Regions from separate parts of the Homo sapiens genome. Here region 2 is linked to region 1. The links come from fine-mapping of genetic effects on gene expression. Tissue or cell type: whole blood. Region 1 holds a variant in brackets; the other region holds the start of a gene. All regions are shown on one strand. Distances are from middle to middle. Region 1 has its middle 32 kb from the start of SERPINB9. Region 2 holds the start of LINC01011 (long intergenic non-protein coding RNA 1011).

Region 1 (13,890 bases):
ACGCTTAGGAAAATAGAAAAGAACCTGTGTGATTTTCGGGGCAGGTCCCCCGAAAGATAGGTAATCCAATGAAGGCTTTGAACCAAAATTTTGAGTAAAGCAATTTTCATGGCAGTTTGATTTTTAAATGCCAAAACCTCCTCAGACTTCAAAGAACAGTGGGGGCAAACAGCCCCACAGAAGAACATCACCTGAAACCTGCTAACCAGGCCTAACCCTGCTTAGAACAGCAACGTAAATGCCTGGATACAGGGACCTCCATCCCACTTTCTCAATCAACAGCAAATTCCAGATTCCAAAGAATATTGGGGCTAAACAGTATTACAAAAGAATATCAGTTTATCAGATTCAGGTTTCCCATGACTGTATCGACACACACCAAACAATCCCCAAAACACAATCCAACTGATGCAGCAACAAACAAGCCCCAAGTGTCCAAACTGAAGCAGCTGGACCAGCTGGTGCTTCCTGTCTCCATTGGTTGGGCTTGATCAATATGCAAACAAAAATTCCTTTGGAATTTCTCACTTGAGAGGAGCCAATCCCGCTGTCTGGTGCCCACAAAAGACATTCACTTGGCTGGGCGCGGTGGCTCACGCCTGTAATCCCAGCACTTTGGGAGGCCGAGGCAAGTGGATCACTTGAGGTCAGGAGTTCAAGACCAGCCTGGCCAACAAGACAAAACCCTGTCTCTACTGAAAATACACCACCAGAGCTGGTGCGCACCTGTAGTCCCAGCTGCTTGGGAGGCTGAGGCAGGAGAATTGCTTGAACCTGGGAGGCGGAGGTTGCAGTGATCCGAGATCGCACCACTGTACTCCAGCCTGGGCGACAGAGCAAGACTCCATTAAAAAAAAATAAATTAATTAAAAAAAGACAGTCAATTTCCCGGACACATACACAACACACAATTACACACAAACCCACAAGAGTGTGTGGCCCAGGCTGGACTGCAGTGGTGCGATCATAGTGTTACTAGAAAAAGAGGTCCTGATCCAGACCCCAGGAGAGGGTTCTTGGATCTCATGCAGGAAGAAATTCAAGGCAAGTCTCAGGGTGCAGTGAGAAGACATTGTTTATTGAAAGCTACTCAGATACAGAGTACAGTGTCCTCAGAAAGCAAGAGGAGGAACTCATCTTTAAGTTTTTCTTATGTAGCAGGTCTTGTTTATGTAAAAGCTAAGCTAAGCCACATCTATGTGTGGGTAGGCTGAAGGCATGACAAAATTTATTATTCTGTTGATTTAAAGAAAACTATCCTTGTGTTTTGTTTTTTTGTTTGTTTTTAGTTTTAGTGTGTATGTACGTAAAAGCATAAATACAAGTATCTTGAAAGCAGCCAGGCATGGTGGCTCATGCCTGTAATCCCAGCACTTTGGGAGACCAAGGCAGGCAGATCACAAGGTCAGGAGTTCAAAACCAGCCTGGCCAAGATGGTGAAACCCCGTCTCTACTAAAAAATACAAAAATTAGCCGGGCGTGGTGATGCGCGCCTGTAGTCTCAGCTACTAGGGAGGCTGAGGCAGGAGAATCGCTGAAACCCAGGAGGCAGAGGTTGTAGTGAGCTGAGATCACACCACTTGCACCCCAGCCTGGGCGACAGAGCAAGACTGAGTCTCAAACAATAATTATCTTGAAAGCATATATTGCTATGGGCATTGGGACATCTTGACTTTCTGTTGCTGTAGGACTGTGTCCCTGCAGGTGTCTTTAAGCTGTTTCCTTAAGTGTAAATATCTTATGACCATGGGTGGTGACTGGAAAAGAATGTGCCTCATTAGTCTCAAGATGAAGCTGAACTTAAAATGGCGTTATTCTGGCTCTCCTGGGCTCCCGCTTCCCTAACAATAGCTCGCTTCGGGCTCAAACTCCTGGACTCAAGCAATCCTCCCACCTCAGCCTCCCAAAGCACTGGGATTATATGGGTTGATTTAAATAAAATAAAAACATTGATAAAAGCTTACTAAGCCTTGATGTTTGATTGTCAATCTATGTCTAATTATAATATTTAAGATTTTATATATTTATATTTTTAATTATTTGAAACCAACCAAACCTCTTCTTTTTGGAAGAGTTTTTTGTTTGTTTTTGTTTTTGTTTTGAGATGGAGTCTCGCTCTGTTGCCCAGGCTGGAGTGCAATGGCACGATCTCAGCTCACTGCAACGTCCGCCTCCCAGGTTCAAGCAATTCTCCTGCCTCAGCCTCTCAAGTAGCTGGGATTACAGGCACATGCTGCCACGCTGGGCTAATTTTTTGTATTTTAGTAGAGACGGGGTTTCTCTGTGTTGCCCAGGCTGGTCTCGAACTCCTCAGCTCAGGCAATCTGCCCCCCTCAGACTCCCAAAGTGCTGGGATTACAGGCCTGAGCCACCATGCCCAGCCCTTGGAAGAGTTTTTTAAAGGTTATAAAATTACATTTCCAAGTGTTAAAAATAAGTATATGAGTTTTAACATCATTTTGTAGCAATAACATCATTTAACAAGGGAAAGAAAAACTTTCAAATAGATGTTTTAAAATGATCATTCCACCCTCTTTCAATAAGATGCATCTTTACCTACAAAGGCAATCCATTACAGTTTTTCAAAAATATTTGCTAGGTATTCCACTAATCGCCACTTTTCACAGAACAGGTCATTACATTTGGAATTCTTGCTATTCCAAAAGAAAAAAAAATGTAAATATCAAATTAACCAACCCTCTTTTCAAAGATCATTAGCAAATGAAAGCAGGCCACTGAAGAGAAATGTTGGAGAATGCTTGCTGACCCAGGAATGTGTGGAACCCGGTGGACCTCAATTCGAAAAGCGTCATATTAATTAGTTTGTCGGATTTTTCTGTTTGAAGGAGCTTGTGAGAGAAACATGTGTTTCGGACATGATCCCACCTGGAAGCTGCCATTAGCGTCTCCTTAGTGCCTTGTCGAATGAGAAACCCTATTAATTCCAGGGGTATTACCTGGAAGTATTAAATGACAAGGAGTTGGGTGGCAGTTAGGGAGGCCTGTTTGTCTTCTAAATGTATCCATTCCTTGTTGGGGTGCTCTGACTGCATGCAATGCAGACAGGAAAATTAAATAGGAAATATTAATCCTCATCTCCTCTTGGAATATGGCATGTCAGCAGGATGACCATACAGCATGGCTTGTCTGGGACAGTCCCAGTTATACCTGTTGCCTTGGTGTCCTGCCTGGGTCAGCATTTGTCACAGGCTTTTCATTTTCAATGAAGTGTTGTTAGTAACAGCTACAGGAGGGGGGTTGGCAGGTCTTTACTTTGTACTGTGAGCTCCCACTACACTTACACCTGTCAGGGTCCACTCAGGAGACAAAGCCACATCAGCTATGTGAACAGAGGAGAATATAAAGGATTGTTAGGAAAAGGGGCACAGACGCAGCATGTGAAAAAGGGGCAGCTGTTACCCACAGGCCCAGTGAGAATGGATGAGGAAAGACTAAAGTGTTAGGAGACCTTTACCGCACCCCCACCCCACACACACTTCGGGCTGAAACTCAGATCTTTTTGAAGAGGATGCAGCTGTCACAGAAACATGCAGCTGCTGCTGGCAGAGTGCATGGGTCAGAGTGGGCCACCAGGAGCTGTCTGCCATTGCCAGAGGGTGTGGCAGGCCAGAGCCGTCCGCAGAAGCAAAAGGCCAGGTAGGGACACAGCTGCCTGAGGTTGCAGCTGTTGCGACTGCAGAAATGGCTGTTGCATGGAGAAAACATGAGAATGAGGCTAGAGATGGTCTGTGTGGGCTGCTGGACCCTGCACTGAGTGGTTACAGGAGAACCAGAACTGGGAACGACAGGTGTCTTTCTACCGGGCTTTCCTGGCAGTGTCTCACTGGCACCCTCTAGTGACGAAGCGTAGCATTGTGCCATCTAGGGAAGTGACAGCAACTCCAGGGTTACATGAGAGGAGGCTCTAGAGCCAAGAGACAATCAATTGCTAAGTGACTCAGCAGGTGCAGGATGCTCACTTTAATCTTGGTTAAATCTGACAGGCAACTTGTGAGTCTGATCCTTTCCAGAAGTCTCCCCCTTCAAGGACAGGACATAAGGAACTCACTCACTGATAAAACAACTTAATCCTTGTTCACAAGCAGCTAGGGACAGCTACGTCCTTCTGGACTCTAGTACTGTGGAGATAATTATTTGGGACTGCTTTCCCCTGACAGCCACTGGGTTGTAATGTGGCTCGTGCTGTGGCTTTTGAGAAGCCATCATTTGGCAGTCAGTTGGAAACGTGGAAAAGTATAGTTTAGGTACACAGTTTAAACTATAATTTAGGCATATTTAAATAGAGGCTATATAAAAATAGAGGCATATTTAAATAGAGGAAATAGAGGCTATAAATTATTATAGATATAAGCCCAAACTCTCTTGCTACAGTGGTTTTGTTATTCATTATATAGGAAAATCTACAGCCATTTATTTTATTGTTTGACTATACTTTTTTACTTAATTTTATTATTTTGAGACAGAGTCTCACTGTGTCACTCAGGCTGGAATGCAGTCGCACCATCTCGGCTCACCACAACCTCCGCCTCTCAGGTTCAAGCGATTCTCCTGCCTCAGCTTCCTGAGCACTGGGATTACAGGCGCCCGCCAGCGTAACTGGCTAATTTTTTGTATTTTTAGTAGAGACACAGTTTCGCCATGTTGGCCAGGCTGGTCTCGAGCTCCTGACCTCAGGTGATCCACCTACCTCGGCCTCCCAAAGTGCTGGAATTACAGGCAAGAGCCACCGCACCCAGCCTGTTTGGCTATACTTTAATTTTGCAATAAATCCTTTTAGCAAACAGTGAGCTCAAAAATTAAGTACTGAATTTTCATATCACAAGAGGTGGAATGTTTAGTGTGCACAAAATGTTGCTGCTTACCACTCACCAGTGGCACCATAGTGCTATCTCTGACCATGTAAAAACTATAAGATGCTAATCTATAAGGAAATACTAGCACCTCCTTCAAAAGTTAGAACTTATTTTAAGAAAATTCTGGCCGGGCACGGTGGCTCACCCCTGTAATCCCAGCACCTTGGGAGGCCGAGGCAGGTGGATCACAAGGTCAGGGTTTGAGACCAGCGTGGCCAATATGGTGAAACTCTGTCTCTACTAAAAATACAAAAATTAGCCAGGTGTGGTGGCAGGTGCCTATAGTCTCAGCTACTCTGGAGGCTGAGGCAGGAGAATCGCCTGAACCTGGGAGGCGGAGGTTGCAGTGAGCCAAGATAAACGTCACTGAACTCCAGCCTGGGCGACAGAGTGAGACTCAGTCTCCAAAAAAAAAAAAAAAAAAAGAAAGAAAGAAAGAAAGAAAATTCTGTCCAAAGATAATAATCTATCAAGTGCATTGCAGAGGATATATTTATATATTAGTTTGTAAAGCAGGCTGTTCATTTGATCAAATGACTGCTATTTGAAGTTAATTTCTGTCATTTTCAAAAAGTAAAGCAATACATGGAAGCATTGGCTGCATTAGCAGAAGAAAAACTTTCATTTTGTTCAAGTAAGTTTCATCAGATGTTTCAAATTAAAAAGCAGTGTAAGGTTTTCATCTAATTCATGGATAGAATTAAAAATAAGCTTTTAGAAGTTCCCTTTCCCACAGGGAAAATATATAATATGTTGTGAATAAATGCTGTTAAAAATGTAGTTAAGCCTGGGCAACAGAGTGAGACTCCATCTCAAAAAAAAATTAGTTAAAATGTGCATCAGGGAAGGTTTTCATACAAATCAAATTTGATGAGTCACAACCTTGGAGTTGGTTAAGATGAACACACATTTTGAATTTTATTAATCAAGCCGCAATATTCTTCTGTTCAAAATAGCATCTTGTAGTTATCAAAATGTATGAATTTTCTTTATATAGTTCCTACAGAATATTTGTGATGAAGCTGCTGATGAATACAAATATGATATGATATTGATGATGTATTGATGGCAGTGCCTGCTTTTCATCTTTGCTGCCCATGAGCAATTGAAATGTAGTTGTGTGTGCTCTTTTGGAGAACGATTTTAAATCAGCCGAAATGCTCTGTAATGTTACTAACCTTCTTTGAACTGAGTCCTCTAAATTTCAGGTGCATTTTGTTCAAAATCAGTTAGAAATAGTCAAAATATTCAGAGTGAAGCACCCAAAAATGTAATTTTGGAGGCTTTTAGCTACTTGAAATCATAGAAAACAAAGTTTGCAAACAGGAAGATATTCAAAGTTCTACAAAACCAAAGGAGAAACTAATTAAACAGCATCAGCTTAATAGTGAATAGGACTTAACTTTCTCAAATTCTGTAATTGAATTTTGGCGTATCTTGACTTGGAGGAAGAAACTTTAGATGGACTTCCTATTTTTAATTGGATAAATTTACAGGCTATATTAGAATGCAGTGAAACTGGGATGTCCAAAAAGTTTGCTGCACAAAAATTTGGTGAAAACTTCAAAAGGATTATTTAAGTCAGTCATTTGATAAGCTTTGTCTGATAAAAGTATTTGGAAAAGAAACACATTGTATGCAGGCAAAAAGATTGTAACTGTGGAAATATTCAGACTGAAATACTTGTGCATTTTAATATGAGAAAAATTAGAATTGAGACAGTTCTTCATTTGTTAGAATTTGCTCTGAGCTTACCACGTCTCTCAGCTCCTGAAGAGTGTTTTCTCCATAAAAATTCCTTAGTCTAACAGCAGGAACAGCTACATAATTTGCAGGGCCCATTGCAAAATGAAAATGCAGGATCCTCTGTTCGAAAACTACAAATAATTTCAAACTGATGACAGTAAAACATCCATCCAAGTGTGTATCCCTGTGAATGTGGAGCCCTGCATGCTGCATAGGTCACACAGGACCTATGGTCAACAGACAAGAGTCAATTGACCATGATAGTAATTTTACATTTATTGACAATAAAGTGCAATTTATAAAAATTTTCTTAATAAGATCCTATTGAAAAATACCTTATTGAGGAAAAATACCAGTGATGTTTGATAAGAGGTAGATTCAGTTAAGAAATGAATTACAGTGTATGAATGTGCACCAAGAATAATGTCTTAGTGAGCTTAGGCTCCCATACAAAATACCATAGACCAGGCAGCTCAAACAACAGAAATGTATTTGCTCACAGTTCTGGAGGCCCCAAAGTCGAAGATCAGGATGCCAGTGAGAGGTGACAGCATGCTGGCAGCCCTCGCTTGCTCTCCCTGCCTCCTTGGCCTCGGCGCCCATTCTGGCTACGCTTGAGGAGCCCTTCTCTGGGCTGGCTGAGGCCGGAGCCAGCTCCCTCGGCTTGCGGGGAGGTGTGGAGGGAGAGGCACGGGTGGGAACCGGGGCTGCGCACAGCGCTTGCGGGCCAGCTAGAGTTCCGGGTGGGCGTGGGGTTGGCGGGCCCGCACTCGGAGCCGCCGGCCGGCCCTACCTGCCCCAGGTAGTGAGGGGCTTAGCACCCAGGCCAACAGCTGCGGAGGGTGTGCTGGGTTCCCCAGCACTGCTGGCCCACCGGCGCTGTGCTCGATTTCTCACCGGGCCTTAGCTACCTTCTTGCGGGGTAGGGCTTGGGACCTGCAGCCCACCATGCCTAAGTCTCCCCCGCGTTACCGCCGCCGCCGTGGGCTCCCGCGCAGCCTGAGCCTCCCCAACGAGCACCGCCCCCTGCTCCAGGGCACCCGGTCCCATCAACCGCCCAAGGACTGAGAAGTGCGGGCGCACGGCATGGGATGGGCAGGTAGCTCCACCCACGGCCCCAGTGCGAGATCCACTAGGTGAAGCCAGCTGGGCTGCTGAGTCTATTAGGGACTTGGAAAATCTTTATGTCTAGCTAAGGGATTGTGAATACACCAATCGGCACTCTGTATCTAGCTCAAGTTTTGTAAATGCACCAATCAGCACTCTGTGTCTAGCTGATCTGGTGGAGACTTGGAGAATCTTTCTGTCTAGCTAAGGGATTGTAAATACACCAATCGGCACTCTGTATTCTAGTTAATCTGGGGGGACTTGGAGAATCTTTATGTCTAGCTAAGGGATTGTGAATACACCAATCAGCACTCTTAATCTAACTCGAGGTTTGTAAATGCACCAATCAGCACTCTGTGTCTAGCTGATCTGGTGGGGACTTGGAGAACCTTCATGTCTAGCTAAGGGATTGTGAATACACCAATCGGCACTCTGTATCTAGCTCAAGGTTTG[G/T]AAATGCACCGATCAGTACCCTGTGTCTAGCTCAAGATTTGTAAATGCACCAATCAGTGCTCTGTGTCTAGCTAATCTAGTGGGTACTTGGAAAACTTTTGTGTCTAGCTCAGGGATTGTAAACGCACCAATCAGCACCCTGGCAAAACGGACCAATCAGCTCTCTGTAAAACAGACCAGTCAGCTTTCTGTAAAATGGACCAATCAGCAAGATGTGGGTGGGGCCAGATAAGGGAATAAAAGCAGGCTGTCGGAGTTAGCCGTGGTATGTTTGCTGAGATCTGCTTCAATGTAGTGAAAATGGTTATTCTTCTTGCTTTTTTTTTTTTTTTTCTCTTTTTTTCAGTAAATGTGCTGTTTTTCGGTTTTGTTTCCTGTATGAGCTGTAACATTCTTTGTAAAGCTCTGTGGTTTTGTTTTTGAAGGTATGAAAATAGAACCAACCCATTTGTAGAGTTAAACAACTATCAGGAGCGTATGGCGTTATGTAGTTTATGACACTCACTGAATGTTTTAGAGCTTTACTCTTGAGCCGATGAGATCGCTAAGCCCACCATGAAAGAAGTAAAGGGAGGACATACCGCTTTAAAGAACTTGTAACACCACACGGGTCTGTGGCTTCATTCCCGAAGTCAGTAAGACCAATGAACCCACCAGCACAGTGTTTTTGGTGATGGTTGTTTTTAGCAACCTTAACTGTAAAAATTTCTCGTTTAAAATCATGAATTACGTGTTAAGGTTTCAACGTATGAATTTGTGGAGGGGGCTGGGCACAATTCACTGCATAGCAAATAACTGTACTTTGAGAATAACGTATATTTAAAGTTTAAATTGTGAATTTTAAAAATTCAATTTGATCTTTTCCAAACATTTTTAAAGAACGATTTGACAGTCTTAGGTCCTCTAATAAAAATCACTTGCAGTGAATTTTTAAAAAATGGACAAGTAATAGTTGTGTAGACTTTTGCAATGTTATGTTTTGATACATGCTTACATGGTAGTGAAACTGGGCAAGTTCCCTTGTTCCTCTCGGGATGTGTGATGGGGCTGATGGCTCACTTTAGTGCCCTGCTGCTCCAACTTTTAGGAGAGAATACAGACAGGTAGGCTGTGGGGCTCCAACCCTTTTGCAGTGTCTAGGGCTGAATGTTTACAACTCCTGAAGCTCCACTGGGCATGTGTTAGAGTGCTTTTTTAGTTTAGCTATCCATAGGTGGCTTGTGTTAACCAGTTCAATCAGACCCCTACCTTATCGCAAGGACAGAGGGCTTTCTGTATCCTGGGGTTCCTGCCTTGGTGTACCAGAAGAATCGGATCACATGTGGGCTTGGAGAATGAGTGCAAGGTAAGTCTGGCAACCTGGGCTCTCCTTCAACTGCCCCCGTCAAACTGCGTTGTTCTGCCGGTGGATGGCCTGCCTGCATGCCGGTGCCTGCTGGTGCATCCCATTCCTCTCAACTTCCAGCCGCTCGTGTGTTCCTCCACTGATGTACTCCTCTCGATATGCAGCCACCTGTGTGTCTGCCTGCTAGCGTCTCAGGGTTTTACAGGCACAGGGTAGGGGCGTGGCAGGCCAGGGTGGTCTTGAGAAGTGCAACATTGGGGCAGGAAAACAAAAATGCCTGTCCTCAACTAGGTCCGTGGGCACAGGCCCAGGGTTGGAGCCCTAGCCAGGGACCACGCCCTTCCCCCCCCCGCCATGTTATTTAAAGAGAGCACACCCTTCCATATCAGTGGAATGGCTAAAACAAGCTAATTCCCATACGCATTACCTCATCTATTTTTTTTGTGATGAGAATGTCAGAGTAGGCGGTTAGACGTGAGCAGGGCATGCACGGGCCCCCAAGAATGTTGGACATTTGTCAAGCCACAGTCACAATTATAAATCTGTCCCTCTGAAATAATGAGCAAGACAAGGAAGGGACCCCAGAGCTGTCTGGTTCTCATTGGGACCGGGATTGAAGGGCATAAAACTATCCCTCTAGGGTAATAAGTGGCCATGGCTGGCGCTGGGAATAACAGGAGTCTTGCAACAGACAGAAGACACCTGGAGTTAGCAAGGCAGTCCCAGACAAGGTTTTGAGCATGTGCAGTAATAGAAAGGTGTGAAATTTACCCGGTGTATGACTTTCCTCTAGGGGCGCTCGACCAGTAAGGGAGAATTGCATCTAATGGGCATGCGCACAACTTCAGTAACCATCCAGCGCCTACTGGGAGGGCTACTGGGCATGCAATACTTGAGGGCCAGCCCGGGAGGTGAAGAACAAAGAGTGGAGACAGCCTGGAAAAGAGTAAGGGGTATAAAAACTGTAAGCAGGCCTGGGGTGGTGGCTCACGCCTGTAGTTCCAGCACTTTGGGAGGCTGAGGCAGGTGGATCATGAAGTCAGGAGATCAAGACCATCCTGGTTTACATGGTGAAACCCTGTCTCTACTAAAAATACAAAAAATCAGCCAGGCGTGGTGGCAAGCACCTGTAGTCCCAGCTACTCGGGAGGCTGAGGCAGGAGAATCGCTTGAACCCTGGAGACAAAGGTTGCAGTCAGCTGAGATTGTACCACTGCACTCCAGCCTGGGCAATAGAGCGAGACTCCGTCCAAAAAAAAAAAAAAATCAAAGCGGAAGCAGCACTTGATTTTTGAAGTCTCCTGCTTGACCCTCTTCCAAGCCTACTTTCTCCAATGAACTTTCACATTGCTTAAAATAAATGTTCCCTTGCCTGTCTCTCATTTGAATTCTTTCCTTTTAAAAGTACAAAGTGAGAAGTGACAGCATGCTGGCAGTCCTCACAGCCCTCGGTCGCTCTGGGTGCCTCCTCTGCCTGGGCTCCCACTTTGGCGGCACTTGAGGAGCCCTTCAGCCCGCCGCTGCACTGTTGGAGTCCGTTTCTGGGCTGGCCACGCAAGGCCGGAGCCGGCTTCCTCAGCTTGCAGGGAGGTGTGCAGAGAGAGGCGCCAGCGGGAACTGGGGCTGTGCGCGGCGCTTGCGGGCCAGCTGGAGTTCCGGGTGGGCGTGGGCTTGGCGGGCCCCGCACTCGGAGCAGCCGGCCGGCCATGCCGGCCTCGGGCAATGAGGGGTTTAGCACCCGGGCCAGTGGCTGCAGAGGGTGTACTGGGTTCCCCCATAGTGCCAGCCCACCAGCGCTGCGCCCTATTTCTCACTGGGCCTTAGCTGCCTTCCCGCGGGGCAGGACTTGGGACCTGCAGCCCGCCATGCCCGAGCCTCCCTGATGAACACCACCCCCTACTCCATGGCTCCCAGTCCCATCGACCACCCAAGGGCTGAAGAGTGTGGGCGCATGGCGTGGGAGTGGCAGGCAGCTCCACCTGCAGCCCCAGTACAGGATCCACTGGGTGAAGCCAGCTGGGCTCCTGAGTCTGGTGGGGACCATGGAGAACATTTGTGTCTGGCCCAGCGATTGTAAATACACCAATCGGCACTCTGTATCTAGCTCAAGGTTTGTAAACACACCAATCAGCATCCTGCATCTAGCTCAAGGTTTAGTGAATGCACCAATTGACACTCTATATCTAGCTACTCTGGTGGGGCCTTGGAGAACCTTTATGTCTAGCTCAGGGATTGTAAACGCACCAATCAGCGCCCTGTCAAAACAGACCACTTGGTTCTACCAATCAGCAGGATGTGGGTGGGGCCAGATAAAAGAATAAAAGCAGGCTGCCGGAGCTTGTAGTGGTAACCCGTTGGGGTTTTCTGTGCTGTGATAAGGTTTGTTCGTTTGCATTTGGCGTCTGCGTTGCCTTTATGAGCTGTAGCGCTCACTGCGAAAATTGTCACTTTATTTCTGAAGTGGGTGAGATGACGAGCCCGGCAGGAGGAACGAAACACTCATCTGTGAAAGTTGCAACTTCATTTCTGAAGTAGGTGAGACGACTCTGTGAAAGTTGCAACTTCATTTCTGAAGTGGGTGAGACGACGAGCCCATTAGGAGGAACGGAACACTCACTGCGAAAGTTGCAATTTCATTTCTATAGTGGGTGAGACGACGAGCCCAGTGAGAGTGAACGAACAACTCCAGGCGCGCCGCCTTAAGAGCTATAGTATTCACTGAGGGTTTGCGGTTTTATTCTTGAAGTCAGTGAAACCAAAAACCAATTTCTGGGTGTAAAAAGACCAAGGTTCTTGCAAGGTTGCTCCTCCCAAATTCCTTCAGATAGGGGAAGACACACAGTTTACAAGAACATTTTGAATCTTACTCATTTTCAAGTATATAATATATATTTTTAATTGTAGCCAACATGACTTACAATAAGTAAACTTAAAAAGATATAAGCCACCCATGTTGGGTGTGGGGGTACATGCCAGTAATCCCAGCTGCGTGGGAGGCTGAGGTGGGGTAGATTGCTGGAGTCCAGGAATTTGAGGCCAGCCTGGGCAACATAACACCCCATTTCTGAAAGTAAACAAAGCCCTAATTATGTTCATTTTCCCCCTTCATTTTCAGATTTCCCATTTTGGCCACGCTTCACATGCGACACATATAGAAGTACACAGCAGCTTCCCCCCTTACCTGCAAGGGATATGTTCAGAGATCTCCAGTGGATGCCTGAAACTATGGATAGTACTGAATCCTATATATACTGTTTTTTTCTATACATATAATAAAGTTTATAAATTAGGTACAGTAAGAGATTAAAAACTCAAAATATGAGTTAAACTCATATGCAATATAATATATGCAATAAAATTGAAATACTGTCAAACTCTGTAAAGTATTTGAAGAGATTTGTTCTGAGCCAAATGTGAGTGACCGTGGCCTCTGACACAGCCCCTGGAGATCCTGAGAACACGTGCCCAAGGTGGTGGTGGTCAGGGGGGAGCTTCTGGGTCGCAGGTGGATTCCAAGATTTTCTGGTTGAAAGTTCATCTAAAGACCTGAAATCAATAGAAGGGAGTGTGTGGGTTAAGATAAGGTGTTGTGGAGACCAAGGGTCTTATTCTGCAGATGAAGCGAGCAGGCTTCAGAGAGCATCTATTGTAAATGTCTCTTTTCAGACTCTCCTGGATCAGGAGAAAGACCCGGAAAGGGAAGGAGATTATCTACAAAAATGTAGATTTTCCCCACAAGAGGCAGCTTTGCAGGGCCATTTCAAAATATGTCAAAGAAATATGTTTTGGGGTAAAATACTTCAATTTCTTTCAGGGCCCGTTGTCTGTCATGTTGGTAGCTAATTGCTAGATAGAGTCTGTTTTGTCAGCGTTAAGGTCTGTTTTAATGTAATGCTGGTCAGCTGTGCCTGAATTCCAACGGGAGGAAGGTAGAATGAGGCATGTCTGAGCCCCTCCTCCCTATTTCACATCGTGGCCTGAACTAGTGTTTCAGGTTTACTTTCGAATGCCTTTGGCTGAGAGGAGGGGTCCATTTGGTTGGGGGGCTTAGAATTTTATTTTTGGGCCAGGCTTGGTGGTTCATGCCTATAATCCCAGCGCTTTGGGACGCTGAGGCGGGCGGATCACCTGAGGTCGGGAGTTCGAGACCAGCCTGACCAACACAGAGAAACCCTGTCTCTACTAAAAATACAAAATTATCTGGGCGTGGTGGCGCATGCCTGTAATCCCAGCTACTCGGAAGGCTGAGGCAGGAGAATCGCTTGAACCCAGGAGGCGGAGATTGCGGTGAGCCGAGATCGCGCCGTTGCACTGCAGCCTGGGCAATAAGAGTTAAGCTCCATCTCAAAAAAAAAAAAAAAAAGT
Region 2 (16,905 bases), 52 kb after region 1:
TTATTTAGCAATATTTAAAAAAAAACTAGGTCACAGTAAATTGAACCAAGGAAGACTCAGTGTCTAAATGGTAAATAAATAATAAACTGGGGCCATGGATGAGTAAAAAACTTACCCTAACAGATAAACCATCCATGATTAGGTCAATTGCTTAGTTTACTCTATTTGGTTAATTGCATATTTATCATACAACTACAATGCAAACATTGAGATTGGTCCAGAGCTAGAACCCCTGCCCTCCAACAGAGGACATAAGTTCCTAGGCAACTACCTACACCAAATTTGTTTTCCTTATAGATAATGTAAACCAAAAATAAAATTCTAAGTACCCCAGCCAACTGAATGGACCTCTCCACCAAGGGCATTCCAAAGTTAGTGTGAAAAACTAGTTCAGGCCATGATGAAAAGTGAGGACAAACATGCCTCGTTCTCATTACACCCACGTGCCTTTGGAATTCAGGCACAATTCCTCATCTTAACGCAGACATTCTCTTCTATTGATTCCATCTGCATGATAGGAACCTTAGTCTCCGCAACCCCTTATCTTAACCCAGACACCCAGACATTCCCTTCTACTGATTCTAAATCTTTAGATAATAACTTAACCCTTTTCAACTAATTGCCAATTAGAACTTTTTTTTTTTTTTTTTTTTTTTTTTGGAGACAGGGTCTCACTCTCTTGCCCAGGCTGGAGTGCAGTGGCATGATCTTGGCTCGACTTCCCAGACTCAAGCAATCCTACCACCATAGCCTCCCAAGTAGCTGGGACTACAGTCACATGCCACCACGCCAGACTAATTTTTTTATTTTTTGTGGAGACAATGTCCCACTATGTTGCCAGGCTGGTCTTGAACTCCTGGGCTCAACTGATCCTCCTGCCTCTGCCTCCCAATGTGCTGGGATTATAGGTGTGAACCACTATGCCTGGCCAGAAAATTCTTGAATTCACCTATGACCTGGAAGCCCCCACTTCCGGTTGTCTGCCTTTCTGGACCGAAGCTGCATACATTTTACGTGTATTGATTGATGTCTTATGTTTCCCTAAATTGTATAAATCCAAGTTGTAGCCCAGCTACCTTGGGCGCATGTTCTCAGGATTTCCTAGGGTTGAGGATTTCCTGTGTCAGGAGTCATTGGTCACTCATATTTGGCTTAGAATAAATCTTTTCAAATATTTTACAGAGTTTACCTCTTTTCATCAACAATAGTAAACATTGCAATGTTTCCTAGGAACAACAGAAAAATTATCCAAATGATATATAGCAATGCCAATCAGCAATGTTTCTATACTTTTGTCAGAGGCATTTGAACCAGACCTACTCCATCTTGAATATGGGTAGGTCAATTAAGGCTATCCTTTAATAAATATCATGGATCATCAAATATGAGAGCTACGGGACTGCATTCCCAGGAGGTTAGGCATTCTTAGTCACAGGATGAGATAAAAGGTCAGCACAAGATACAGGTCACAAAGACTTTGCTGATAAAACAGCTTGAGGTAAAGAAGCCAGCCAGAACCCACCAAAACCAAGATGATGACCAAAGTGACCTCTGGTCCTCCTCACTGCTCATTATACAGTAATTATAATGCATTAGCATGCTAGAAGACATTCCTGCCAGCACCAGAACAGCTTACAAATGCCATGGCAATGTTAGGGAGTTACCTTATATGCTCTGAAAAGGGGAGGAACCCTCAGTTCTGGGAGTTGTCCACCTCTTTCCCGGAAAACTCATGAATAATGCACTCCTTGTTTAGCATATAATCAAGTGATAACTATAAGTACACTCAGTTGAGTAGCTCTTGCCTCTGCTCTGCCTACAGAGTAGCCACTCTTTTGTTTCTTTACTTCTCTGATAAACTTGCTTTCACTTAACTCTATAGGCTTGCCCCAAATTCTTTCTTGTGAGAGTTCCAAGAACCCTCTCTTGGGGTCTGGATTGGGACCCCTTTCTGGTAACACTTTCTAGCTCTCATATCTGATGGCCTATTTAAAAAAAAAAAATAGTAGCAGCCACTCCCAGTGACTCGCTTGGTAAACCTGATTGGGTCATGGATCACTTCTAAAGGACACCTAGCAGGCAGGCAGCAGAGAACCTGTTACGAGGCCATGAATACAGACAAAATGCATGTAACCTTTCCTGCCAGTGTAAGGAAGTCAAGGAGGAGAGTTTAAAATAAGATGCTGTTCAAAGTGGTGCAAGACACAAGGAACAGAGATCGGATGAGACCACAGGCAATAGGCAAATAAAAGATGCACTCTCTTCCTCTGAGAGGTGGTGACCCACTTTCCTAAGAGAAAAGTGTTTTGAAGACTGACTTCCCAATTTTTTCTGCCCCGGGAAAGCTTCTGGAACAACACTTTAGGGGCTACTGACAGGCTGCTCTGCTTCTCACCAGCCATGAGCATCCAACCCCAAAGCAGTCCCCAGGCTTCTCTGTGTCTCCTCTACAAGGACGGGCTGGGGAAGACCCTAAGCTCCACTCCCTGCACCATCCCTAGCTTATGAGAGCAGCCACCATGCTCCCTGCTCCTGCATTTATTGCAAAGAGCCTAGCTTCCTTCCAGAATTTTCTGGGACTAGAGCAAACAACCTGCCTTATTTTCTGAAATATCATAGTGGAGGGTTGAGAGACACTGGAACTTACTTTTCTGGGTGGTCTCTCCCCAGCTTTCCTTCCAGATTTGCAGGGACTAAGTGCTAGAGCCTTTCTCCTCTTACATATGAGAGTAGACCTCGAATTGAGGTAAAGCCATGGTCCTTCAATCTAGGCCTAATATTGGCTTTGCTCCCTGCTCCCTGGAATTTTGAGGCAAGTCCAGCATGGACTTGCCTCTCCCACTCATACAACTCAAGTAGTTCATTGAGGTGGGTGAAAGACCCAGAAATGTAACCAGGCCACACTCTCCTACACCTGGAATTTGTAAACCCTCCCCACGGCAAATGCATATACTTGAAGTCCCTCCCTCACTAAGTAACGGAGCTGGAAAACCCTATGAGACAAACTAGTGACTAGTTCCCCATAACTTCGTGCACTAATCTTTGTTGCACAAGCATTGTATCAGATCACAGAGAGTTGAGAAATAGAATTGCAGGAAGCATGGTCCTTCCTTTTTCAGGCGCTCAGATGGCTGGGAAAGGCACTGTGCCCACAGAATGGCATGTGCCTGCTCTAACAGGGCATGCACGCACCCATGAGAACAGAAGCCAGGAAGAACGGCTCTGTGAGCCTCAGGATGTGTTCCCTGGGGCCTCAGCTGAGCTCAGTCTCGTAGGAAGAGTAATTTTCCAGAGCTGAGAAAGAACAAACAAGTGACAAAGATTCCTAGCTTGGCCAAACATTAGTCAGGTTTCTTTCTTTTCTTTCTTTCTTTCTTTCTTTCTTTTTCTTTCTTCTTTCTTTCTTTCTTTTTCTTTCTTTCTTTCTTTCTTTCTTTCTTTCTTTCTTTCTTTCTTTCTTTCTTTCTTTTTCTTTCTCTCTCTCTCTGTCTCTCTCTTTCTTTCCTTCTGAGATGGAGTCTCACTCTGTCACTCAGGCTGGAGTACAAGGTTGTGATCTTGGCTCACTGCAATCTCTGCCTCCCAGGTTCAAGCAATTCTCCTGCCTCAGCTTCCCGAGTAGCTGGGATTACAGGCATGCACCACCATGCCTGGCTAATTTTTGTATTTTTGCTAGAAATGGGGTTTCACCATGTTGGCCAGACTGGTCTGGAACTCCTGACTTCAGATGATCCACCCACCTCGGCCTCCCAGAGTGCTGGTGTTGTGAGCCACTGCGCCTGGCCCATTAGTCAGGTTTGTGAAACTTCTATTAGGTCTACCTGTGCACTTCCATGTAAAATCTAGTTTTAGCAAAGAACTCCCCAGTTTCACTGTGCAATCACCCTTGATATCTGATCAGGCACCTCATCCTCCACCGCCTCCCAGGGGCTGTCTGATCACCCTGACCTGCCTTCCGCAAGAATTCTGTGAGGTCGGTTTAGCCAGAATCCCTCTGACCCCTGATGTCTCCTCTTAGTCATTTTCCATCCACTGACCCCACCCTGCTCCTTGGCTATAAATCCCCACTTCCTCAGGCTGTATTTCTGGTTGAGCCCAATCTCTCTCCTGCACTACAAGACTCTGTTACAGCAGTTTCTAACCCTATTGAGTTGGTCCTGAATAAAGACTTCTTTACTATGCTTTAATAAGTATCATGGATCATCAAATCATTTATTTATTTATTTATTACCACCGGCAACAGAAAGGTGCAGTGTGACAGCCCACAGGGGCAAAGGGTGAGTGTGCTTTAAGGGAGGAGAGAAGGGTGTGGGCTGGGGAGAGGCCCCCAGGGAGGTAGGGTAGGGCTGGATGGTGTGTCAGGGATGGGCTGGGAAAGAGTCCTTGTGCCATTCTAGGAAATTTGGGTTTTATCCCTCAGACATTGGGGAACCAGCACAGGATTTTAATGAGAGGAGAGGATTGCTTTCTCTTTTTTCCCTTTCTTGCCCCCTTTTTTCCATCCTTTCTTCTTTTCCTCCTCCCTCCCCCGCCCCAACCCCCGTCTCACTCTGTAGTCCAGGCTGGAGTGCAGTGGTGTGATTATAACTTGCGGCAGCCTCTACCTCCTGGGCTCAAGCAATCCTCCTGCCTTAGCCTCCAGAGCAGGGACTACTGGCATGTGCCACCACACCACACCTTCCTTCTTTTCTTCCTTCCCAACTCCAGCATCAGGCCTTAGGATGGGCAGGGTGCAGAAGACAGTGACAGCAGGGAGCTGTTTAGAAATTGGCCTCAGGAGCCCAGAACACAGGTAATTTGGGCCTTAGCCAGGCACTGGCAATGGTGATGTCTGTGAGGCAGAGAGCTAATTAGGGGGCAGAAATCATAGACTATACTGAACAAGTGGATTTTGAGAGAGAAGGGCAGAGTTACAGTTCCAGATGGTTTGTATTTATTCTAACTCAGAGAACTGGGTACATGAAAGAGTATATAGGGGGAGGAGGATCAGATTTAGGGGTCAGATAATCAGTTTGAGTCAAAAGGGGCTTAGAGTGCTGGTGAACATTTAGGTGAAGATGTCCAGAGGACAGGTAGAAATTACGACAAAGGTAAGAGCTATCGATGCTAAATGAAGCTGGGGGAGAAACTCCTTGATCCAGCAACAAACATTTTAAAAGACAGCTGGAAAAGGAGCACATGGCAAAGAGGACAGAGAAGGAGAAGACAGAAGAAACAGAGAACCAGGTCAGCATCCGCTGCTGGTGCTGAGAGGAAGAGGAGAGTCAGAATTGAAAAGGGCATTTCTCATTCCCAAGTCGTTAGTTACCAAGGGACGATAGATGGGAGGAGCAAAAACTGAGGCAGATCCAGGCCTGGAGACACATGGAGAGAGTTGTCTTAGAATACTCTTTCAAGAAACTTATCTGGGATGAATGAGAAGACGAACTGGAGCTGGAGGTGGGACTGTGTCTTTTGAGATAGGAGCCTTGGCTGTGACCCATACAATGTGTAAGGAGAGGCATCACACCTCTTCCACCCCTACAAGTTGATACTCTCATATTTAAAATCTGAGTTAAGGCCAGGTGCGGTGGCTCATGCCTGTAATCCCAGCATTTTTGGAGGCCGAGGCAGGCGGATCACTTGCAGTCAGGAGTTTGAGACCAGCCTGGTCAACATGATGAAACCCTGTCTCCACTAAAAATACAAAAAAAAGTTAGCCAGGCATGGTGGTGTGTGCCTGTAATCCCAGCTACTCAGGAGGCTGAGGCAGGAGAATTGTTTGAACCTGGGAGGTAGAGGTTGTAGTGAGCCAAGATCACACCACTGCACTCCAGCCCAGGTGACAGAGTGAGACTCCGTTTCAATAAATAATAATAATTAATTAATTAGCCAGGCGTGGTGGCAGGCACCTGTAATCCCAGCTAGTTGGGAGGCTGAGGCAGGAGAATCGCTTTAACCCGGGAAGCTGAGGTTGCAGTGAGCCAAGATTGCGCCATTGCATTCCAGCCTGGGTGTCACAGCGAGACTCCATCTCAAAAATAAATAAATTAATAAATTAAAATAAAATCTGAGTTAAATTTAAATAATTGTGTTGTTCTGGAGATTTTTTAAAAAATATCATCACTGGTCATAAGAATTTGAGGAATAGCTAAATAACAAAACAGAGGTTTCTCTCTCTGTCTCTCTTCCTTTTTCCATAACAAGAGAAGCTCATCTTCTTATCTGGTCTGGAATCACTTGGGTGACATTTCAAAATGCAAATTAAGAGCCAGGTGGGCAGGTCCCCAATGCGTTGGGATGGGCCGCAGCTGACTGGGCAGCCTCCCTTGAGCTCCCAGGACTTTGCCGAAGGGAGTGGCGTCCATTTGCATGAGGAGCTCAGGAAAACTGCTCCTCAGGTGCCGAGTTAGAGACACCTAGTGAGCTTCACCAGAGTAGTTTTGACCAGGGATACAACAAAGCTCCTAAAACTGAAAAAGCACGAAAACAAAAATGGTTGTGAACAGGGCTCAGCGATGACGAGGCTACATTCAGCCAGTGTGTGTCTGGTGCCATGGTAGACACACCCCTGGGATCCTGCCGCCCTGGCACAGGGGGTGCTCTGGGAGACAGAGGCTGGAATTGGACTGCATTGCAGCCAGGTGGCCTTGGAGACCCAGAAGGGTGCCTCCTTGGGCAAACTTAATGTTCCCCCTAAAGAGATCCCTTTGAAGATCCGCATGGCTTTCACACAAAGGGCGTGGGGTTTAGTTCCAAAACGTAGGCTTGGGTATTATAGAATAAAAGCAAAAGAGGGCACAAGATGTGCATTTTCATTATGTTTACTTAGTGAAGGGTGGGCAGACATTTTCATTATTTTTGGGTTTTTTGTTTGTTTGTTTTTGAGACAGAGTCTTGCTCTGTAGCCCAGGCTGGAGTGCAGTGGCAAGATCTTAGCTCACTGCAACCTCCGCCTCCTGGGTTCAAGTGATTCTCCTGTGTCAGCCTCCTGAGTAGCTGCGATTACAGGCACCCATCACCACGCCTGGCTAATTTTTGTATTTTTAATAGAGACGGGGTCTCACCATGTTGGCCAGGCTGGTATCAAACTCCTGATCTCAGGTGATCCACCTGCCTCAGCCTCCCAAAGTGCTGGGATTACAGGCATGAGCCACCGCGCCCGGCCCATTTTCATTATTTTTAAACAAAGGCGAGCAATTCACTTTCTGGGTGCCCACCTGAAGTAGAGAATCCCAACCCCTTACCATGAAAACAGATAATCTGTTCACTGAGCCCCAAGGACAAAGCAGCCAGGGTCGACTGAGGGGCTACTGCAGCCTTCCTCTCTGACTCCTCCCACCTAACCATTCCCTCAATACCTCAATACACACACTCCTTTCTTTCCCAAGTCTATTGCCTCTTCCAAAAGCAATGTAAGATCCGCCCCAGAACAGTGGGGAGTTCTTATCCTTTCCGTTACCTAAGCAACCTGAGGGCAAAGACCTTTAGATCACCGGCAGTGCTGTTCTTTGGGTAACTTGATCTTTGCTTATCAGCTTTAATAACTTTATTATACGAAATACCCAGCCTTGATGAAGTATCGATGACTCACTAACTGTGGTGTAACTAATTGTTTCATTCATTCTACAAACTTTTTTTTTTTTTTTTGAGACAGAGTCTCACTCTGTTGCACAGGCTGGAGTGCAGTGGCGCGATCTCAGCTTACTGCAACTTCCACCTCCTAGGTTTGAGCGATTCTCCTGCCTCAGCCTCCTGAGTAGCTGGGATTACAGGCGCGTGCCACCACACCCGGCTATTTTTTGTATTTTTAGTAGAGACGAGGTTTCACCATGTTGGTCAGGCTGGTCTCAAACTCCTGACCTCGTGATCTGCCCACCTTGGCCTCACAAAGTGCTGGGATTACCGGCATGAGCCACCGCGCCTGGCCTCATTCTACAAACTTTTATTCTGCACTCACTATAGGCTGGGAGCTACACTAGGGCCTGGGGACATGAAGACAGGCGACACGGTCCCTGGGCTCAAGATGCCAGACAGATGTGCAAACAAGTGAAATCTGATGTGATATGTGCTTTAGTGGTGCCAAGGATAAAAGGATAAGTGTTAAGAAAAAGTAGCAACAATATGTCTGACTGGGAGAATCAAGAAAGGTGTCATAGAGTCCCTAACACTTGAGCTGAGAATGAGAAAGAGCATGAGCTGGCCAGGTGACACACAGAGCATATTCCAACCTAGGAGACTGGGAAATGGGCCAAAATATATACGTTTGAGGAAACAAATAGCTTACTATATAATTAAATATGAGGCAGTTTAGACTGGGCCCTTATGGATAAGTCACACCCATAAATTTTATTTCATCTTACAGGCAGTGGAGAGCCTCTGGAGGATTCTGAGCTTCGTGGTCTCATCATCAGAGTTATGTATGGCAACCATCCCAACCTTTTTGGCACCAGGGAGGGGTTTTGTGGAAAACTATTTTTCCTTGGACAGCAGAGGATGGTTTCGGGATGATTCAAGCACATGACACTTCTTGTGCACTTTATTTTCAGTGGGAGCCCTGAGCTTGTTTTCCTGCAACTATCTGGCCCCATGTGGGGGTGATGAAGACAACGGCAGATTATCAGGCATTAGATTCTCATAAGGAGCGCACATCCTAGATCCCTTATGTGTGCAGTTCACAGTAGGGTTTGTGCTCCTATAAGAATCTAATGCTGCCTGATCTGATAGGAGGCAGAGCTCTGGTGGTAATGCAAGCAATGGGGAGCAGCTGCACATACAGATAAAGCTTCACTAGCTCACCCACTGGTGGCTCACCTCTTGCTGTGTGTCCTGGTTCCTAACAGGCTACAGACCAGTCAGGTCTGTGGCCCGGGGGTTGGGAACTCCTGGTGTATGGAAGAGACTACTCTGCAGCAATGTGGACAAATAGGATGAGGGTGAGCTGTCAGGGGAGACAGGCACACATGGCAGAGCTATTTAAAAAGGAGGATAGATGACCAGGCACAGTGGCTCATGCCAGTAATCCCAGCACTTTGGGAGGCAGAGGCAGGCGGATCACGAGGTCAGCAGTTCAAGACCAGCCTGGCCAACATGGCAAAACCTCATCTCTGCTAAAAATACAAAAATTAGCTGGGCGTGGTGACATGCGCCTGTAATCCCAGCTACTCAGGAGGCTGAGGCAGGAGAATCACTTGAACCCGGGAGGCAAAGATTGCAGTGAGCCGAGATCGTGCCATTGCACTCTAGCCTGGGCAACACAGCAAGACTCTGACTGGAAAAAAAAAAAAAAAAAAAGGAGGATAGACAGGGCTTGGGGATTGGTGGATGGGTAGATAAGGAAGGAGGAGTCTAGCATGACTCTCAGACTACTGACTTGGACCAGCAGGGGAATGGCTGTGACAATAAATAAGATTGGGAAAACAAGAAGGTGAGCAAATTTAGAGGAGAAAATGAATTTCATTTTTGGCATGGTGTGGAAGGCTCGGGAGAGAGGTCTAGGCACCAGATGTCAACGTGAGGTGAAATGGATATAGCTGAAGTCAAGGGTGTGGTGAGGTTTTGCAGGGAGAGCAGGGACCTCCAGCAAGGCCAGTGCATAAGGGAGAATAGAGAAAAAAAGAACCAGAAAAAGACAAGGAGAGGCCAGAGAGGTGTGGAAAGAACCAGGGAAGACAGTTATTCACAACAAACAAAAGAGGGCAGAGTTTTAGAGAAGGAACTGAGCAGTTTGGGGCTCCAGGTGGGGCAGGAGTGGGTGGCCACGGTTGAGGGGCAGTGGCCTTCAAATTGGTCTGGGTAGGTTCTAATGGGTCAGATTGGTCAGTCCTTTCCAGGACACTGAAGGCTGCAGAGGTGTGACTGGATGCTGGTGGAGGGATGCATGGCGGGGAAGCTGAGTCAGATCCTGAAATCCTCCAAGCATGCGCCTGAAATGACCAAGGGAAATGAAGGCGGAGGCTGCTGTCGCCTGGTGGCCTGGGAAGGGCCAAGAGCCAGGGAGCTGGAGGGAGGAGAGAACGTGCGACCTCAGCACGGAGCACTGTAGGGGAGGCGGGGCTGGAGGGAGATGGCGCCGCGCTCCCGGATGAACAGAGAAAGCGACAGGGTGAGTCGCAGGGCACAGTGTGGGATGAGTCACCGACAGCAAGGCATGGACTCCGGGAAGAAGGGGAGACGAGCCGGGAAAGACTTGCATCGGGGATGTGAGCTGAGCTGCACCCAGACAAAAGCGGCTCGGGGCTCCTGAAAGCAGCAGGCACCGCCGGTCCTGCCAAGGGGCTACTTCCTGCGCGGAGTAGGAGAGTAGGAGACCCCAGGCCAGTCCCAATCCCCGGCCCGTCCGGGATGAGGGGGGCTGCGGGAGCTGCGGGGGCCTCCTCCAGGGAGGACGGTTGCAGGGTCCCTCGGCCGCCGCCCACTCCCGGGGGCGTTCCTTCCTCCCAGCTGCGCCCGGAGCGCCTGCTGCCTGGCGAGAGCCCGCCCCTCTGCAACCAGCCCGCTGCAGCGGAGGGCGCCTGGGTGCCCTCGGCCGAGCCAGCAGCCCACGGTCGGCGCCGCACTGTCCCCTGGTGGCGGAGCGCTCCCGCGACCCGGCTCGCCACGCCTGGGAGGGGTCCAGGAGGACGCGGCTGGGACCTGGGGGCTCTCAGGGTGGGGCCTTGGGGGATGAGGCTGGGGCCCGCGGGAAACCGGGCTGGGGCGAGGAGGCTCGCAGGACTTCCTGCCACAGAATGTTTCGATGCTTTTTTTAATTCTGCAAATGTAAGCCTTTCCACTTTAAGTCCAAGCTCAGCGCAGAGGACTGTTCTATAATACATACAATTTAGTTTAAAAATGTTGCAAATGTTAACATGTGTCACAAACTCAAGCAATCCAGTATTATAGAAAGCAAAGAATGAAATGTGCTGCTTCTTTCTCCCCCAGACGCCCTTGCATACATTAAGATATGTATATATGGAAATGTTACCGGGAGTCCCGGTTATCCCAAAAAGGGTTGTTTCCTGTTGCGTGGTGAGGCCAATGCACGAAACCGAAAGGGAGTGTGTCAAGCAGTGCAGGCTGTATTCAATGGCTATGGAATTGGAAGATCTGAAATCAACTTAGCTTGTGAGAGCTGGGAAGTTTCAGAGGTAGGGTGTCTTTAATGAAGGGGCTGGGCATTAAGAGCACGGGGGGGAATATTCGTGCTTTCCTTGGGAAAGAACGGAGATTTTTCCCGGAATCAAGAAACCCCTTTTTTTCTGTCCCTTCTTGGTCTCTTCCAGTCGTTGTCATGGCGACATGTTGTTTAGCATGAGAACAGGATGATGATAAAGCCAGAGGCTCTTCAGAGGCGCCATCTTGGATTTCGCCAGCTTCAGCTGGTTTCGTCCTAAGAAGGAACTTCGAAACACAGGCATTCTTTTTCCTGAAAATAAGCAGAGTTACAGCTGAGTAGGAATTTAGCTCTGTCCCATATGCTATCGCATTGGGCAGCAAAAGCAGGGTGGGGTCCAGCGAAATCAGCAGGCACTGCAATGAGTAACATACCCAGCCACGTTTATGCAGCATTTTTACGAAAATGAAACCATACTACCTGTAAAGGAAGATATGCTAACAAACAACAAAACTGGCAGGAACCAAGATTCCTACTGACACTACCCTTAGTTTTAATTTTCCCTGACAACAAATGAGGTTAACAGAGCATAATTATCTACCGTGACCCCTTCAAAAAGACAGGCTGTATACATTTGCACTAAGAGAAGAAATCGTGTAATGTCAGCAAATTTCCCCCACTTAAAGCTTCTCTATTTAAAAAGCTTCACGCACACATGCACGCATATGTCTTCAAGATGACCACAATTTATTTTGCAGTCATTCTTTGCACCAGTTCCCAATTTTTCCCACTAGCTTGCAAGCTCCGTGACTCGAGGAGACCGGGGGATCAGAGTTTGTTTTTGCGGAGAAGTGAGTCCTTTATGCCCCAAATAGTGACTGACATAGAGAAGGTACTCAGTAAACACTTTTTAAAGGAATGCCTGCCTGACTGAAGCTTAATGATGTGAGGCTTCTAGTGGGATACCCTACCTTGTTTTAACCTGAAGTGACTCTTCCTTAGCTAAGAGAGCCAGACGGACTCCATCGTGACTCCTTCACTCGCAGCCCCTTACCCACCCCCTTCCTCAAGGACTTAACTTGTGCAAGCTGACTCCCAGCACATCAAGAATGCAATTAACTGATAAGATACTGTGGCAAGCTATATCCGCAGTTCCCAGGAATTCGCCCGGTTAATAGCACCCAGAGCCCCTGCGTTTGTGTCCGGTTGATAACGCCCAAAGCCCGGCGTCCATCACCTTAGGATAGACTTAAAGCCTCTGCACCTGGAACTGTTTACTTTCCTGTAACCGTTTATCCTTTTAACTTTTTGCCTACTTTACTTCTGTAAGATTGTTTCAACTAGACTCCCCCTCTCCCCTGTCTAAACCAAAGTATAAAAGAAAATCTAGCTCCTTCTTCGGGGCCAAGAGAATTTCGAGCGCTAGCTGTCTCTCGGCTGCCGGCTAATAAAGGACTCCTGAATTCGTCTCAGAGTGTGGCGTTTCTCTGTAACTCGCTCGGTTACAACACTAGGTTAATCTTTTTCCTTTAACTGTTTGTTTAAAATATATTATGTTTAAGACCTTCTAACTGGTCAGCCTCCAAGATAGTATTGTGCTGGGCTTGCTTTATTCTGGTTTGGTTTCCATGATCCCAGTTCATGTGTTACCTGCTTCTCTTTTGAATTCACAATGATACACAACTTTTAATTTGTTAGAACACAAACATAAGGAATTTTTTTTTCCATTTTAATGTGAGATATGACAGAGGCAAATTGTTTCTTAAAGACATAAAATAATTAAAATAATTACATAAATTGTAATAAAATAATTATTACAATGTTCTATCTTTGGCATTAAGGCATAGAACAATTTTTTAATCCTAAACTAGGCTGGGCATGGTGGCTCACTCCTGTAATCCCAGCACTTTGGGAGGCTGAGGCTGGTGGATCACTTGAGGCCAGGAGTTGGAGACCAGCCTGGCCAACATGATGAAACCCTGTCTCTACTAAAAATACAATAAAAAATTTAGCCGGGTGTGATGGCGCTCACCTGTAGTCCCAGCTACTCAGGAAGCTGAGGCACCAGAATCGCTTGAACCCGGGACGCGGAGGTTGCAGTGAGCTGAGATATAGCGCCGCTGCTCTCCAGCCTGGGCAACAGAATGAGACCCTGTCTCAAAGTAAATTAAATAAATAAAATCCTAAACTGTAGGACCAAGATTTGATTCAGAAAAGAGACTTTCTTGTACTAATTTATACACTGTTCATGTCAGATCCAATCTTTCTTTTTATTAGATGAATCTGGAAAAGCAACTTAGAATAATTCAATCAGTCTAAAAGAATAACAGCTGATGAGATGCAGTCAATAAGCAGTTTTGTATTAGTATTTTTATAAGAAATTAGAAAAACATGATTTTGGGGGAGATCTTCTCATAGTTAACAGCACATATAACATATAAGTTAGAAATGTACTCTGCTAGCTCATAAGATTTTAAAGCAGGGATTTTAGTGTCATTAAACTTTTATTTATAATAGTTTTTTTAATACAATTTTTTTTTTTACTTTGGAATAACTTTAGATTCACAGGAAAGTCAGATAATACAGGTAGTTACCATATTCCCCTAACACAGTTTCCCCTAATGGTAACATATCACCATGGTAGTGTTGTGAATTCTTATGTTGGGTTGCCTCCACATCCATTTTGAATATACATTGGACTTTCCCACACCAAAATCAAGGCTCAGTCACCCCGGACAAAGTTGCTGGTTCTCCACCTTCTCCCAGTTCTGTTATGTGGTGGATCCAGATATCTGCCTCATACAACTATCTCCTGTTGACCACTTCTCTATGGCACAGCTAGAACCTATTGGCCACACTGACCCTCACACCCCACCTAGAATGTGCAGATGCGCCACAGGGCCCACCACTCAGTCACTGTGCCACCTCCTGGAACTCATGCCTGCTTGCTGTAAACCCACCGAATAAAACTCCCCATGGGAAACCTGTTTGGATAACACCCTGGACCCAATAAAGGTGTTGGCCCATGGGTTGCTGTCTTGGTCTCTCTGCCTGCACTCCCTGATTTCCATGAAGGTGGCCTCCAAGTATGCCATGTGCCCCAGGATCTGTAAGTAATAAACTATTTCTAGCCTGTGTCTCTCCTAATCGTTGTAGGGGTGCTCCGCATCTTGAAGATCTTAAAGTAAAACAGATACATTTGTGGAAACTAAGGTCCCAACGTTGTACATTACTATTAACTCCAGGCTTCATTTGGGTTTCAGTTTTTTCATTAATATCAGCCTAAGTTTTTAAAAAATAGTCAGCCGAAAAGAAGGATTTAATTTTATGTGGTAATTTCTGCACAAACATAATATTCTTGAGAAACATCTTGTCTATCAATAACATGTTTAACTATATATTATATCAATATGCTCAAGAAATCAGGCCTTGGTAAAGATTTTTCTTTTTTTTTTTTTTTTTTGGGACGGAGTCTCGCTCTGTCGTCCAGGCTGGAGTGCAGTGGCACGATCTCTGCTCACTGCAAGCTCCGCCTCCCGGGTTCAGGCCATTCTCCTGCCTCAGCCTCCCGAATAGCTGGGACTACAGGCACCTGCAACCACGCCCGGCTAATTTTTTGTATTTTTAGTAGAGACAGGGTTTCACCATGTTAGCCAAGATGGTCTCGATCTCCTGACCTCGTGATCCGCCCGCCTTGGCCTCCCAAAGTGCTGGGATTATAGGTGTGAGCCACCGTGCCCGGCCCCAAGATTTGTCTTTACTAAGTAATGCATGTGAAATATAATAACTGACAATGATAATACAGTGACCAGGTAACTCAAAAATTATAAGTCATTCAATTGAATAACATAGTGTTTTTGAAATGTAAAAAGATAAATATAAATAATAAGTCATATTAAGACAAAATTTATTTAACTGATAAAAGTAAAATTTGTTATTCTCTCTAGCTGTATAGATAAGACAGGATCTCTATAGTGCATTATTTCAAGACTTACTTAGTAGGAAAACCAGTAGGTTTGATTTTTTTTTAAATGCCACTTTGGTTTTAAAGCACTCGCTTTGTCCACTAGTTTTCTAGATCTGAGTATTGGCTATTAATGACATATTTCTAAATTATACACATCAATAATGTGACAATAGCTTCAGGTCAGGAACTACTGTGTGATTTAGATGTTTGTTCCTTCCAAACCTCATGTTGAAATTTGTTTCATCTTTTTTCTTGTTTTCATAGATAAGGGCCTCGCTCTGTTACCCAGGCTGGAGTGCTGTGGTGTGTTTGTGACTCACCGTAGCCTTGAACTCCTGGGCTCAAGCAATCCTCCCACCTAAGCCTCTGGAGTAGCTGGGACTACAGGTGAGCACCGCCAAGCCTGACCTCAAGTTGAAATGTGATCACCAATGTTGGAGTGGGGCTTAATGGGTGGTGTTTAGGTTGCAGGGCCAGATCCTTATGAATAGATGAATGCCCTCCCTCAGGGGTGAGTGAGTTCTTCCAGAGCTGGTGGTTAGAAACAATCCTTGACCTCCCTCCTTTCTCTCTTGCTTACTCTCTTGCCATGTAATCTCTGCACACTCCAGTTCTCCTTCACCTTCCTCCATGAGTAGAGGCAGCCTGAGGCCCTCACCAGATGCAGATGCCCAACCTTGAACTTTCCAACCATTCAGAGTCATTAGCCAAATAAACCTTTTATCTTTATAAATTACTCAGCCTCAGGTATTCCTTTATAGCAACACAAAACAGACTAAGACAGGAACCTACACTCCTTAGAAGAAGGCCATATGATATAAGGGTGTTGAGTCTAAGATTTTAGTGTCTACACTTCGTCTTACATTTTCCATTCTTTCCATTTTCACAAGTCCTATGATACAGTTGAAAATCTTTCCTACGCACTAGTAAAGCCATAGGAACTTAAAATTATTAAGTGTCAAGCACATATGAAAATCAGACAATGTGCAAAGAAAAACGGGCTATGTGTTGCATGAGAACGAGGAACTAATGTTCAGTTTAGGGATATGAACTGTTCAGAAACTTGGTCTGATCAAAGTTATGTCAGCCTTAATAGTAATCTGACTGATAAACAACTAATACTTGAAAGACGGTACTGATATGGACTATTTCACCTGGAGATTGTTTACTTGATAACTTTTTTTTCAAGTTCTGCAAGGTGATTTAACATCCAAAAATATATAGTCAATCCTGGGTATTCATGGAGGACTGGGACCAGGACCCCTCAAATATATCAAAATCCACAGATGCTCAAATCCCTGATATAAAATGGCATAGTATTGACACATAACCTTTGCACAGCCTCCCATATACTGTAAATAATCTCTAGATTACATATAGTACCTAATACAATGTAAATGCTATATAAATAGTTGTTACACTGTATTTTTATTTGTATTTTTTTATTGTTGTATTGCTTTTTCTTTCAAATATATTCCATTGGAGGTTGGTTGAATCAGCAGATATGGAACACACAAATACAGGAGGACAACTATATCTAAATCTAGATTAATGTAAGCGGTGAGAAAATATTTTATCTCCGTCTAAGTAGGTCCTACCAGAGGGGAAACTAGACTCACTCAAAGATTGCTTTGATCAATCCACACACAGTTCAGTGATGGACAGAGTGTCAGTATCTGTTATATGTGTCACTATCCCATGCTAGAGGTGTCAATAGATTATGTAACCTTTCTGAGGAATCACAATACAATAATTGATAATAATATTGATCACATAAACATAGACTTCCTTGACACAGGATTGCCACAGACCTTCAATTTGTAAAAAAAAAAAAAATGCAACATCTGTGGAAGTACTATAAAGA

The links. PIP is the estimated chance that this variant, and not a neighbour inherited with it, causes the effect.
Region 2: LINC01011 starts here. The variant in region 1 is fine-mapped to the expression of LINC01011 in whole blood (TOPMed, PIP above 0.99).

The regions. Positions count from the first base shown.
Region 1 is chr6:2,928,508-2,942,397 of GRCh38, forward strand. No RefSeq gene overlaps it. Among named protein-coding and RNA genes, the nearest start is that of SERPINB9, 32 kb to the left of the region's middle. RefSeq lists enhancers at 1-281, 282-941. The variant G/T (reference allele first, on the strand shown) is at 8,181.
Region 2 is chr6:2,978,626-2,995,530 of GRCh38, forward strand. LINC01011 (long intergenic non-protein coding RNA 1011) reads left to right here and starts at 9,342. Exons shown (of 3, transcript NR_026856.1): 1 at 9,342-9,406; 2 at 10,903-11,108; 3 at 11,244-12,546. NQO2-AS1 (NQO2 antisense RNA 1) reads right to left here. Exons shown (of 2, transcript NR_186367.1): 2 at 10,711-11,386. RefSeq lists enhancers at 9,284-10,093, 10,094-10,903, 10,904-11,713, 11,277-11,436, 11,714-12,521 and 1 more and silencers at 10,287-10,706, 15,288-15,472.